Homo sapiens: one gene and its partner. The protein of the gene in region 2 purifies or fractionates together with the protein of the main gene of each other region. This does not show direct contact. Each region holds a gene or a part of one and is shown on either strand. Other genes may lie near its edges. The genes, in order: TSPAN15 and SYPL2.

Evidence for each region.
Region 1: the proteins of SYPL2 (region 2) and TSPAN15 purify together in Homo sapiens (affinity purification with mass spectrometry; 2 studies listed by BioGRID and IntAct, with this or other methods). This does not show direct contact.

What each region holds. Positions count from the first base shown.
Region 1 is NC_000010.11:69,447,378-69,454,464, reverse strand, and holds the start of TSPAN15 (tetraspanin-15), read right to left. Parts: upstream 3,001-7,087; 5' UTR 2,871-3,000; coding exon 2,775-2,870; intron 1-2,774. UniProt on the Homo sapiens protein: Part of TspanC8 subgroup, composed of 6 members that interact with the transmembrane metalloprotease ADAM10.
Region 2 is NC_000001.11:109,476,546-109,483,454, reverse strand, and holds the end of SYPL2 (synaptophysin-like protein 2), read right to left. Parts: intron 6,680-6,909; coding exon 6,478-6,679; intron 5,638-6,477; coding exon 5,446-5,637; intron 4,078-5,445; coding exon 3,907-4,077; 3' UTR 3,338-3,906; coding exon of another isoform or gene 3,322-3,337; 3' UTR 1,321-3,321; downstream 1-1,320.

The DNA of each region.
Region 1 (7,087 bases), on a different chromosome or scaffold from region 2:
CTCACTGCAACCTCCACCTCCTGGGTTCAAACAATTCTCATGCTTCAGCCTCCCGAGTAGCTGGGATTACAGGCACACACCACCACGCCTGGCTAATTTTTGTATTTTTAGTAGAGATGAGGTTTCACCATGTTAGCCAGGCTGGTCTCAAACTCCAGACCTCGGGTGATCCTCCCGCCTCAGTCTCCCAAAATGCTGGGATTACAAGCATGAGCCACCGGGCCCGGCCCCAGTAGTAATTTTTAAAGTAAGCAAAAAGTCTTACAGAAGGTACAAGGCTGTCATAAAACTTATGGCCCTCCAGACCTAAAAACTGAGATGCAAATTGCTAGCAGTTTGGACTTACAAAGCAAGTAACCCTTCCCTCAACCCCAGAGATGGCACCAGAGATGGCACCAGAGATAATAGGCTTTCCTGTAAATGGTTTCCAAATAACAGTAAACCTGGTCCAGGACAGATTACTTACTCACACTGGGCCCTGCCCTGCAGTCAAACTCTGGCACCTGGAGCTGCTCTGGCAGAGTTGGCAGGTGGCTGAGTTCTTGGCATGGGTGTAGAGACTTTTAAACAGAAATACTTCCAGGGATGGGAGTTAAGGATTTGGTAAGGCAACCTCAGTTGGCAGAGGAGGGATTCCAAGTTCTGAGAACCACCCTGCCCAAGAGAAGCAAGGCAAGGGCCATTGGGTGGGCTTCTCTGGGGGCTGCAAAGGACAGTGACAGAACAAAGCCTTAAAAATTAGAGTTCAGTTTTATTTAACTGCATGAGGTATGTTTGTACTGCACTGATTTTGCTCATATGTCACTCTTTCCCCATATCACTAATCCTAAAACAATTCAGTGAGGTACAGGGCAGAGATTCACTTATTCATTTTATAGATGAGAAAATGGAAACGTGAGGAGGTAGAGAGACTGGTTTGTGATTATATATCTGGGGAAGGGGTGAAGCCCAAAATACAACTCCATCTTCCTACCTCCCCACCCATCAACCTTAGGCTCTTTCAACTCTGATTTACAGAGAGAAGGGCTCACAGAACACACAAGGGGCAGGCACAGAAATCCTGGGGACTTAGGGGACCTATGAGACCATCTAGGGCAGCAGTTTTCAATACTGACTGCACACTAGAATTACCTTAATTCTAGTAAGTAATTTACTACAATTAAGCTTATGTAAATTTAAATAAATACCTATGCCAGGGCACAAGAATCTGATGCAACCGCTGATTTATAGCTCAAATCACCCCCACTCCCATCCCACATATGACCTTCTGTCTCCCTAGAGCTTCCACCAACAGGTCCTTGCTCCATCCTCCGCCCCCCAAACATACTGTTCATCTCTCCTCCACATTACCTAGAGTCAGAGAATTGGATTGGAAACTGGCCTCAGACTAGTCTTCTAGATGGAAAAGTCAATGAACAGTTCTGAGGCCCAAAACAGGAAAGTGACTTGCCTAAGATATCCATAAGTCAGTAACAGAGCTGAATCTGGATCTCCGATTACCAGGCAAGGCCCCACCCACAAAGGGGTCACAGGGAAAGCCAGTCCTGATGGCAAATCCAGCAGCTCCTGCTAGCAGAAGAGACCCAGCAAGGGGCTAAGGAGGACACCAGGGGAGAGTGTGTGTATTTGGTGGGAATGGGGTGTCAGTGACCACCCTGGGTCCCTGGGCAAGTCTGCTCTTGTGGCATACTGCAGGCAGAGAGCGATTCTGGAGTGACAGGGGCGGAGCTGGCCTATAGGAAGATATCCTCATCTCTAGAATAGGGCCCAGCCTAATATGAAACGCCCTTACAGAAACCCAATCTCTTGGGGCAGCTTACACCACAGGTGTCCAAATTCCCTGCCCACGATAGTAATAATGTCTCACACTTCTTGAGCTCTTCACTAGGCACCATACCCGGCCTATTTCACGTAATCTCCGCGAGCATCCTACAAGTTGAATATAATTACTGTGTCCATTTACAGATGAGGAAACCATGGCCGAGAGGAATGAAGTAACTTCCCCAAGATCACTCAGCAAGTGCTCATTTCAGAAACGCACAAACTGAAATTGGAACGATACAGAGATTAGCAATGTTTTAAATAAAAAATAAAATATAAAATAAAAGACCACTCGGAGCGACGGAATTCAAAGCTTGGTTCATGTCTAAACACTACCATCCTGCCCCCTAACAAGGCAGAGGAGGAGGTAAAGCCCAGCGACAGCGGAAACTGAGCACCTAGGTGTGCAGGAGACGTCGTCTGGTGGACTTCTCCTCGCCACGCAGGAGGCACGTGCATCCACCAAAGAGGAAACCAAGACGGAGCGGGGAAGCGTCTCGCTCAGGGGCATCAGCAAGTAACTAGCAGGGACCAGACCCGGAATCCAGGTCTCCCAACCCCGACTGCAAATCCTAACTACTTAAGCTCCACAGGCCGATGCAGAGGCAGTCAGTCCTACCGGGTAGGCGTGGTGGGCGCGGCCAGCGCGTTCACCTCAGCCTAGCCAGCCGGCCAGCGGACGCACAGCGGGCAAACCGCCCAGCCGGTGCACACAGGTGAGCCAGGTGGCACTCGGTCGGTCGACAACCGGCTCTCACACTCCCGAAAGGGCGGCTGAAAATTCAGGCTGAGCTCTGGCCGCCCGAATGTGAGGTAGAAAGACAAGGAGTCCGCGCGCGCTCACCCGCGCACTCCCTGGAGCGGCTAAGTGTGGACCCAACCCCGGGCCAGTGAGGGGGCGGCCGGATTGTGGGTCCCCACCCCCATCCCCGGGCCCTACTGGGGTCACTCACCCAGAACACGGTGGAATAGATGATAAGTGAAAACTTGAGCCAGAGGTAGGAGAAGCGCGCGCAGTAGCGCACCTGCTCCGAGTCCCCGCGCGGCATCCTGGGCGCTCCCCGCGCGGGTTACGGGGGCTCCGGGGCTCTCCGGCTCGGTCCCTCAGCCAGCGCTCGTGGCCCCACCTGCGGCTGCCGGGCTACCAGCCCCGCCACCGGCGTTCTCTCCGGGACTGACACTGGAGCGCGGCAATCACAGCCCCAGCCGGGAAGCCTGCCAGCCCTGGCGGCCAATGGGAGGCCGCGGCTGCCTAGCGTCTGGGAGGGGGCGGGCCAGGGGCGGGGCTGCTGCCCTGGGCCCTAGAGGGGACCAAGAAGGGATGGGAGGGGGAGACGGTCTTGCAAATGAGCTCGCGTGCAACTCTGGAAACGCCTGTGCTAATGCAGGGGGCGTGGGAGAGGTGAACCAGAGGTGCTCTAAGGAGAGAGCGAGCGTGCCTAATCGGGGTACATAGAAATGCAAGCTTTCCTCTTGTCAAGAGGGAAAACTTTGGGAAAAGGGCAAGAATTAATCGCCCAGGTGTTGAAAGTGCAAATGAGTGTGCTAAACGTGAATGGAATAAGGAAGTGGAGTTGCTCGGCTCAGGAAGGCTCAGGGAGGCAGACCAGGGTGGGGCTAATAGGCCCCCATGGAGCTGGAGTCTGAAGTTTGCTCGTGAAACAGATCTGCTGAAGGCCTTCACCAAACGACCTCGGAAGTCCCCTTCTTTTGCCAGGTGATAACCCAGCCTTGGGAAGGGTTCCTCCCGGGAAACCCCATCTTCAAACTAGGTTGAAGGCCTGGCGCGGTGACTCACGCCTGTAATCCCAGCACTTTGGGAGGCTGAGGAGGGCGAATGGCTTGAGCCCCAGGAGTTCAAGACCAGCCTGGGCAACATGGCAAAACGCCGACTCTATAATTAAAAAAAATAAAAAGCCAGGCACGGTGGCGCGCCTGTTGTCCCAGCTACTTGGGAGACAGGCGGGAGAATCGCTTGAGTCAGGGAAGTCAAGGCTGCAGTGAGCCGTGATTGTGCCAGTGCACTCCAGCCTGGGAGACAGAGTGAGACCCTCTCTCCAAAACAAAAACAAAAACAAGGCCGGGCACGGTGGCTCACGCCTGTAATACCAACACTTTGGGAGGCCAAGGCGTGCGGATCACTTGAGGTCAGGAGTTCGAGACTAGCCTGGACAACGTGGTGAAACCCTGTCTCTACTAAGAAATACAAAAAAAATTAGCCGGGCAGGGTGGTGCATGCCTGTAGTCCCAGCTACTGGGGAGGCTGAAGCAGGAGAATCGCTTGAACCCGGGAGGCGGAAGTTACAGTGAACCGAGATCCCGCCACTGCACTCCAGCCTGGGTGACAAAGGGAGACTCCATCTCAAAAAAACAAAAAACAAACAAACAGAAACTATAGGTGAGGGAGGCAGCTCCCTCTCTTGCACATAGCCAGCCACTAACCCAGCCTCCTCCCACCTGGCCTTTTCTCAGCCTGGGACCAGAGGTGGCTGTGAGCCTGTCTCTCATGCTAGATGGTCCCAGCTTTACTCACTGTTGTTTCCTGTCTCCCAAGCCTAGCTCAGCCTGGGACTTGGGAGCCAGACAATCCCTGCTGTGGCCTTCAGTAATTAAATCCATGGCAGAGGTCATAAGCTCTAGCAGTGCTGGGTGGGGTCCCTGGTGGTGATTTCAGGAACGACACTCTTATACAAGTCCCCAGTCCTGGGTTCCCAGGGCTCCTGCATACACAAACTCAACAGAGAAGGACAGACTCAGAGACTTAGTCCAGGCTGGCTTTAGCCCCCAGAGCTCTGCCCTAGGAGGAAGAAAGCAAGATTGGGGGGTGGGGAGGGAGGCAGTGCCATGCCTGGAAGGGTAAAAGGAAACCAATTTCCTGGTACAAAACAAACAAACCTTGGGAGGATGTTTGTGTGGGGTAGAGAAATAGAACCAGAGCCAGGCACAGTGGCTCATGCCTGTAATCCCTGCACTTTGGGAGGCCAAGGTGAGAGGTTTGCTTGAGTCCAGGAGTTTCAGACCAGTCTGGGCAACGTAGCAAGACCTCATCTCCACTGAAAATCAAAAAAATTAGCCAAGCATGGTGTCTCGTGCCTGTAGTCCCAGCTACTTGGGAGGGTGAGGTGGGGGTATCACTTCTCGAGCCCAAAAGATCAAGGCTGCAGTGAGCTATGATTGTGCTACGGCACTCCAGCCTGGACAACAAAGCAAGACCCTGTCTCAAAAAAAAAACAACAGGGAAAAGAAAAGGTGGAAAGAGAACCAGAGAGTAATGCAAGCTGCCCTCAAATGATTATCTGAGGGCCAAGAAGGCATCTTACCATAGTGTTAAAAGTTGTCCATTCTGGCCGGGCGCGGTGGCTCACACCTGTAATCCCAACACTTTGGGAGGCCAAGGCAGGGGGATCACTCGAGGTCAGGAGCTCAAGATCAGCCTGGCCAACATGGTGAAACCCTGGCTCTACTAAAAATACAAAAATTAGCCGGGCATGGTGATGGGTGCCTGTAATCCCAGCTACTCGGGAGGCTGAGGCAGGAGAATCACTTGAACCTGGATAGCAGAGGTTGCAATGAGTCAAGATCGTGCCACTGCACTCCAGCCTGGATGACAGAGCGAGACTCGGTCCCCAAAAAAAAAAAAAGTTGTCCTTTCTGTCCTTTGAGGAGGAAGACTAACTTTTTATTCCTCTTTGAGGGCTAGAGCCTCCACCCAGCCCTGCAGAGCTAAGTCCACACCCATTATTTGAGGTGCTAGTCTCTTCCCCACCCATAGAAGCTTGGAACCCTCTTCATACCCTGGAAGGCTAGTTTAGCCTCCTAGTTCCCTTTCATTCTCCATATTTAAACTACAGTCGAAACTGCCACACACCTCCATCAGGTTTCCTTCCCAGTTGCCCCTGGACTTCTATTCTTCCCTTCTGGCCTCTCCAGCCAGCTGCATTTTCTCTCATCTTTCAAATATTCCCTGGTGACACACAAGCTTCTTAGCAAGCCCTCTCAGCTCTCCCTAAGCCCTCGAGGTGAGCCATCCCTACAAAGAGCCTTGGAGCTCTTTGGGGCTGGCACAGCCTTTCCCTGGCTGCTGGGCTTCTTCACTGTGCCTCCCCACCTGCAATCCTGACCCTGACCCCAAGCACTAGGGCTCCTCCTGAACCACATTTGCAAACACTGAGACCTCAGAAGAAATGGCCATCTGTTTCCCACTTTTCCTCCTTTAGCCAGGAACTCTGGCCTAGGGGCCAGCAGGCCTGGTGCAAATCCTGGTTTTGCCATTACTTTTTTGTAGGACTGTTAGAATGTGTGGCATAGTGTGACACACAGGTGTGAATGCAACCCTAGCTGCAGACTAAAAGCACCTGGTAAGCTTTAAATGTATCCTGATATTCAAGCCCCACTGCAGTCAAGTCAAAATCCCCACCAACAGGAACGTGGTAATCAGTATTATTTTTAAACTCCCCAGGTAATTTCTCATTTTTATGTTTATTTTTATTTTTTTGAGAGGCAGTCTTGCTCTGTCACCCAGGCTGGAGTGCAGTGGCGTGATCTTGACTCACTGCAACCTCCGCTATACAGGTTCAAGTGATTCTCCTGCCTCAGCCTACCAAGTAGCTGACATTACAGGCCCCCGCCACCACACCCAGCTAATTTTTGTATTTTAGTAGAGACAAGTTTCACCATGTTGGTCAGGCTGGTCTTGAACTCCTGACCTCAAATCATCAGCCCACCTCCGCCTCCCTAAGTGCTAGGATTACAGACATGAGCCATTGTGTCTGGACTCCCCCAGGTAATTTCTAAAGTGCAACCAGAATTAAGCATCACTGGTACAGAGGTAGTCATGAGGGTAAGGTTGTCAGCCAACATCTTACCAGAAAGCCACATTCCAGAAGTCACTTACTCAGCTATCCACTGATATACTGGTAAATATTTAAAAACTAGCTGGTGTGGGGGATTCCAATTTCCATAAAGTAAATACTTCCACCATGTCTGATTTTAAGTTACCAACTTCACTTCAATGAACTTGGGAGTTCAGAGGCATGCAGAGTCTGGAACAATCACTCAGTATCCCATGCAAATATCCATATCTCAATCCACCCCCAAGGCTTTTCTAATTAGCATAATGAATGGATTGGTAAAATTCTGGGCTTATTAATTAGCATAACAGGTATTAGAAATGAGTCTCCTTTGGAGAAATTAACAGTATTAAAGATATTTAGATTGGCTAAAATAGTTTTGGCACCACCCATTCCTTGTTCAAACAGTGTCAAAG
Region 2 (6,909 bases):
GTGAATCAGAAGGGCAAGGGGAGGGAGTCTGTAGGAGGTGCTGAAGGACACAGGGGTGGTGTGGGGGAGGGCCTCGGCTCCCGTGTCGTGCCTCCTCTGTGGGAAACCCACGCTGCCCTGATGCAGAGCAGAGGGTTGGCGTGGCGTTGTCTGGATTTGAGAGGACCTGGCCAAGCTGACCAAGATCACCTGTCATGATGACAGGATGACAGAAGGCTGTCTCCGAGCCAGAGCCAGCCCCAGAACTGGGGTGGCCCCGAGGCAGCTGGTGTTTGCAGCATCTCTGCTGATCTGTCTCTCTTCTCTTGAGAACTGCGATCGATACCCTGTACAGCCTCTTCCCAAACCCTGGCTGGACCCTGACTCCATCCATCACTTTGCCTTCTTTTTCTAATGAATACTTTCTCTGCTGGAAGGGCTGCTTCTGAAGCCTCGGCATAGGGAGATTTCTCATCAGAGCTGTCATCTTCCTTGCTAAGGTCTGGAAAGTACCTTAATCATCCATTTCTTTCATCTTCTCAGCTGATAACATTTCTTCCCACCCTCACACAATCAGACAAAAGTCTGCCTACTCCATTTCCCGCCCCCCCCCCGCCGCCATCGCATTAAAAAAGTAATACTAATCCTTTTTCCTCCTCAACCTCTCACACCTCACCCCCGACGCTTGACCCTTTAGCTAAGGGGAAAACAAGTTGGGGAGCAAGACCTCAGATTTTCTTCTCCTTTTCATCCAGGGAAGGTGTAAGTACTTCAAGAATAATCTCTGAGGGCAGGGAATCTCAACCTGAGACCCACAGATGATCCCTAGGGCATCCAGGAATCAGGTAAAAATTAAATGTTCAATTGTACCCAAGGTATTTTTCTAGGGGATGTAAATGTAGTGTGTGACTCTCTGAAGAGGGATAGAGGTGCAAGTTTGTTCAACAAGAAGCTGATAGTTAAGAAAGTGAAGCATATGGCCCTCAACTCCTGACAGGAAGCCTGTTTGGGTCACAGATGGTAGGAGAACAAATGGAAACAGCTTTGTGGAAGCCACTATCTCTCACCTTTTGAGTTTGCTCCAGAATTGCTAATGAGTCCCAGTTACTTTGGTCTAATTGGGTGCCACCAAAAGAGGAGATGTCACTAGACCAGAGCCTGCTAGGAATAACTGCTCTCCTCTCTGCACCCCAAGCAACAGAGTCTGACTTTGTTGCTTGGGGTGCACAGTGGAAAGCAGTAGAATGATATCTTGGTGAAAGTCCTGATATTGGTTCAAGAACTTAAAGCAAGGGAGAGGAAGAAAAAATAAATCCCCGGAAGGACTCCAGTCTCAGATCCTTCATGGCAAGTACTTGCAGCACTGTTTATTCAAATATATAATAACAAGCACCAGAAAACAACATGCAACATTCTCCCCCCACCCCTGATCTGCAATCCCAGAAGTAGGAGGCTCATGACTATGATAGTGAAGGAAACTCATGTCCAGGAAAGGTCCTAGGTGGGCACCCTGGTGCTGGGTTAGAGTCTAGTGGGACAAAGGGCAAGTACCCTGCCCATTAGCCTCCTACAGCAGCTGGAGAAACCAGACACCTTCTTCTACCTCAGGCCCCACTTTGCAAAGCAGTGATGCCAGCCCTGGTTGGAGAGAACATGAGTCCTATGAGGCACTTGGCCCTGCCCAGCCCTCTGGAGGTAATGAGGTGAAGTAGCCTTTCCTCTTAGGGTGGCCATAGAGAGTGAGGCCGTAGCCTAAATCAAGGCTCTCCTGATGGAGAACAAGAGAGCCTCTTGAGAAGAAAGAGAACGAGGCTTCCTTGCTCTAAAGAGAGTCCTGGGCTGGGAGTCCTTGGCAGGAGTGAATATAATCTCCCCCCACCCCCTGCCCGCAACTGCTTTCCCTAGCTGAAGGCCCAGTTGCTAACTTCAGCCCCCAAATGAGAACACTACCCAGCACATTTCAAATAAATTATAAATACAGACACAGAATCCAAACAAAGATCCAGTAGAAGCTGCTCACAGACCCCCACAGAGGCCGGCTTGAAGAAAAATGAAGGTCACCCCTTTGTTCTCTGTGTCTCTGGAGCTGTAGGCAAAACTGTCCCCCCTTGTCCTTGAGTAACCATGGGGACAGCTCATGACAGAGAGTTTCAGACTTAAAAACCCTCTCACCCCATCTCCTTTCTTTCCTCCTCAAATCTCTTCCCCAAAATCTTAAACAAACAAACAAAAACTAATTCTTTCACTGAGGGACTCAAGCATTTGGGGATGTAAATCTCACCCTTTCCCCATCGGGAGGAAATGACTGGCCTGAAGTCAAAAGTCCTGACTCCTAGGTACCCCAGTAATGCACATGTTACTATGGATGGTGTTTAGAGAGGTGAGGAGGTTGAAGGGGGTTGACTCAGTCCTGAGGAGAGATTGGCACAGGGCACATTCACCTTTAGGATGCTTAGTGGGCCAATTGGCACTGGATTGGAAAGTGGTCGGATTCTTCCCTCTTCTTCCTTCCCTGGGAAGCCCTATGGCCAGGGCAGATTGAGCTGGGTAGGAAGCAAATGATCCTTACCCAGTTAACACTGATTCTCAGCCTTGGGGCCCAGAGAGGGACTGAAGGAGGTATCAGGAAGAGGATATACACTAAAGACAAATATGGAACTGGGTCCCAAAGTGAAGAAGCACCAATAGCATCGGCCTGCCCTGGACTTGAGAGGGGATAGAGACTGGGAGAAATAAGGACACAGGGGAGAAATGGGACAGCAAGGGAAGAGGGAACATCCTGTTTTCAAGATGAGAAGGAGAAATATGAAAGAAGGACTAGAGAAGGAGCAGGGGAAAAAACTGAGCAGGGAATAAGGAAAAAATGGGCCCATCCATCCTGGGGCTCTGGGGCAACTTAGCCTCATGATGGTCCTTTGGCCCTTCCTAAGCCCCTGTCTGGCCCCACAGGAATAAAAGGAAGGCCTGGACAGACTTCAAAAAGGATCTCAAATGCCTCAGATGCACGATGCTGGGGAAGGGAGATGGACAGAGAAGTAAGGGGATTAGGAGGCAGGTCCTGACTCCACATTTTTGAGTCCCAAGTGTGAGACCAAGAAGGAGGACAGGGAGGAAGATAGGGCGTTTCTAAAGTAGAGTTTAGAGTGTTGGTGGAAAGTGCCCCAGCCTGGTGGGTGGGAGGATTGAGGGGATAGAAGAAATTGATTCTGCCAGCAAGCTTACTGGCTTTACTTTCTTGAAGCTGCAACTCAGTTGCAATTTATCTTGCTCCCAGCTGAGTCCAGGAAGGCCTCATCAGGACCCTCTGAAGGGCTGTTTTCTAGGCTGGTGGACCTCTCTGGTTCACACATGGTGGATTCTGTGGGCAGGCAGAGGCCAGAGAAGACAGTGGAAGGCACACTGAGTCATGGGATGACTGGAGATCAGACGCAGGGACTAGATGACAGCCACTGAGGAGGGGTCGCCAAACCACTATTGGGGCCTCCACACAAGGGACCAGAGGGGAAGGCTACTAGCTGATTTCCCTTCCCCCTAATATTGTTGAAGCCGGACAGGTTGACAGAAAGGTGGCTGCTAGGAACCAGTCTCAGAGCACTGGTTTCCTGCCCCCAACCCTCACCTGCAGCAGAGGCTGGTTCTCAGAGACTGTAAGGGTACAAGTAAGACCCCAAGTAAGATACCTGGGTCCAGGCACTGCACAAGAAGCACTGAGCTCCTGCCATTCATGGCTCCAGCAAGAAGGAGGATAGGAAGCCACTGAGAGGGCTGCCCAGGTTTCCAACAGCTGATGCCTGCCCATCGTCTCAAAGCTCAAAGACCAGAATGATGGGGGAGGGGAATTGGAGGAGGAGGAAGAGAAAGGTCCTGGAAGCCGGAGGTGGTTGAAGAGGTGCTGTCCAGTTCGGGAATAGCCAGGTGGGGGGCTGCTTACTGCTTCTCCACTGCTCCCTGCTCAGCTGCACTCTCCTGGCTGGGACCCTGGCCCTGGTCCTGGTCCTGGTCCTGGTCCTGGCCCTGGCCCTGTCCATGCCACGGGGTCTCCTTGAACACAAACCAACAGTTCCCGGCCCACAGGAAGAAGTTGATAAAGCCAAAGAGCTGCAAAGACATCAGGGGAATTTGTGAGAATAGTCAGGGGGTCATTGTGGGAACAGGGAGGGGGAGTTCCTATTGCAGTTGGGGTTGGGGCTTGTGCAGGGAAGAAGCACAGAGGACTAGAAAGACTAAGACAGAGAGCTCGGTATAGAGGCAGGGCTCAGGACCATCAACTGTTTAGGGGAATCCCAGGTGAAAGTGTCTAATTCTGTCCACACCATGCACCCAAGCTGTAGCTTGGTCACTAGCAGAATCTGACCCTTTAGAGGAGCATCGTGCAAAGCATAGCAAGGAGCCAAGCAAAAGTCAGCCCTGGGGCGCCTCCCACAGCACGCGTGAGGCCCTGTTCGGAGCACCTTCCGCCAGGTAGGTGTGGCAGGAGCTGTCCAAGGTGCTCCTTCCCTGTGATCAGGCACCTAGCCAGGGCTATGTTCAAATAGTTATTCAACATATTTTAAAAACCTCACAGCAGGAAGTACTTAGAGGGAAGTGTACTGATGTCCCAAATTATCTTTGAAATGCACTAAAAACAAGACGGATTGATGGATGAAGAAGTGAATAAATATGTGATAAAGCAAGTCTAGTAAAAAGTTAATGGCACAGTCTAGGTGGTGAGTGCATGGGTATTCACTGTAAAATTCTTTCAACTTTGTTGTACCTGTGAACATTTCTACAATAAAATTTTTTTGGGGGGGAACCATAAGCAGGGTTCCAGCAAGTTCCAGACGTGTGTTCCTGGTGTGCCAGCCATTAAACATTTCAGATGTGGGAACAAGTCATTTTCAGAGCAGGGCTGAGGTGGCTGGGATGACGGGCAGCATTTGAGAAGCTCAAGACCTCAGCTCTTTACCAATGGATATGGACATATTTCAACATTCTAACAACTGGGATGGCCAAATCCATATGCATCCAGCAGACCCACTACTGCTCCAAAGCCCCTTTCCAGGCTGGAGGGCTGAGTGACAGTAAGCCCCTTCCCACTCATGCTGGGTCTGCTCGCAGCTTCAAGCTCAGCCACAGCCCCAGGCTCCCCTTTATGTGTTCACACACATTGTGTAGAACAGGCAGGAGGAGGGGAGACATCACAGAGAGCGTGCCTAGAGGTGGGGAAATGAGAAGGGAATTGGAGGCAGAGTGCAGAAGGAGGAAGGAACAGAAGGCTAAGTGGCTTTTGGGTTCCCCTCATCCCAAAATGTCCTCTCAGGGTCAGCCAGGAGCCAGCAGCCAGCATGAAGCGCAGTGAGGGCACCAGCTCCAGGTGCAGGGGACACCAGCTCTGGGACACCCTCTCTTTCCTTTCAGGACCTGCTAGCTGGGACAGGCCTGGGCAGCAGGGCTGGTGCTGCTTCCTGCAGTGGCCACAGGTCTCACCACGGAGATGTTGGCCAGGCCCATAGAGGGCGTGGCCCCGGCACTGCACACTGCTTCCTCTCCATGGCACACTGACATGGCTGCTGTCAAGCTGGATGGTCGTGTGGCCCCCTTGACATCGGTCAGGCCCTTGCCCCAGGCAGCTGCAGCTACCAGCCAGAAGAAGGTGAAGGAGACAGTCACACAGAAGTCCTGGGAGGAGCAGAGGGATGGGAAATACACTCAGAAAGGCCCCATGATTCCCTTGCTTCTTTTCCACTTGCCATGATACTGGCAATCCCAGGGTGCCAGGACAGTTGCCTCTTCCCATCCTACCCAACACCTAGAACCCAGGTGGTCCTGAGGCATCTGTTCACTGCCCCCAAAGGAGTCCTGCCACTCAGGCTAGCCCTGCTAATGCCCTCAGATCTAAGATCTGGCAACAGTGTACCAAGGCATCGTTGGTCAGCCTCACCCCAAAACCCACTCATCCCAAGTGGAGCCTAAATTCCCCACTCTTCCCTCCCAGCTTTTTCTTTGATCACCATTGCTCAGATACAAGTGGCAGACTGCAGGACGCAAATGGGGTCCCTTAAGGCACCCCTTCCGCCTTGCATGCCTGGGATAGGAAGAGAGTAAAGAGGAATAATATTAATAATCGCTAATGCTTATTGAGACTAACTATGTACTAGATACATGCATTCTCATTTTTTCACATACACACACAAAACTATGAAGCAGGTATTATTTTATCCCCATTTTATAGTTAAGGAAACTGCGATTTAGAGAGGTTATTTAACTTGTCCGAGATCACACAGCAAGTAAGGGGCCATGCTGGGATCTGAACCCAGGCAGTCTAACTCCAGAGCCTGCTTGTGTATGGTGCTATTGTGCCTCCTGTGAACAGGAGCAAGCAACGGGAGGTTGATGGAGGCAGAGGTTCCACCATGGGGGTGGAAGCCGCCATGCTTGTCCTCTGCTCCAGTTCTGACCTCAACCCCCTCACAAACATCTGTTTCTCCACCCCATTCCTTCTGGCCTGTGCTGACTCACCACCAGCGGGAAGCGTTTGTTCTCTGTGTAGAGGTTGTGGAAGCGCAGGTAGATAACTAGGGCAGCCATGGTATAGAAGAAGGAAAAGATGCCAAGGGTCACGAAGAACTCGGCGGGTGCAGAGAAGTCCCCCATGAGGTGCATGGTCTTGGAGCTGGACTCTTCATCGCAGAGGGGCATCTCATATTGGATCCGGTGCAACCTGCAGGTGGCAGGGGAGGCCATCCTGAGCTCAGGCAATCCTCTCTCTCCCTGGCCCAGAAGTAGTCCTGTGCTAGTTCTCAGCAGGGGACTCTTACAGAGCCAAGAAAGGGGTCATGTAAGGAGGCAAGTTTCTGGAAGGAACCTTGCAGTTAAGATGGGAACTCCCCCGAAATTTCCAGTAAAACTCTACCTTCCCCTCAGCTGCTCCCCAACCCACCCCACTCATCT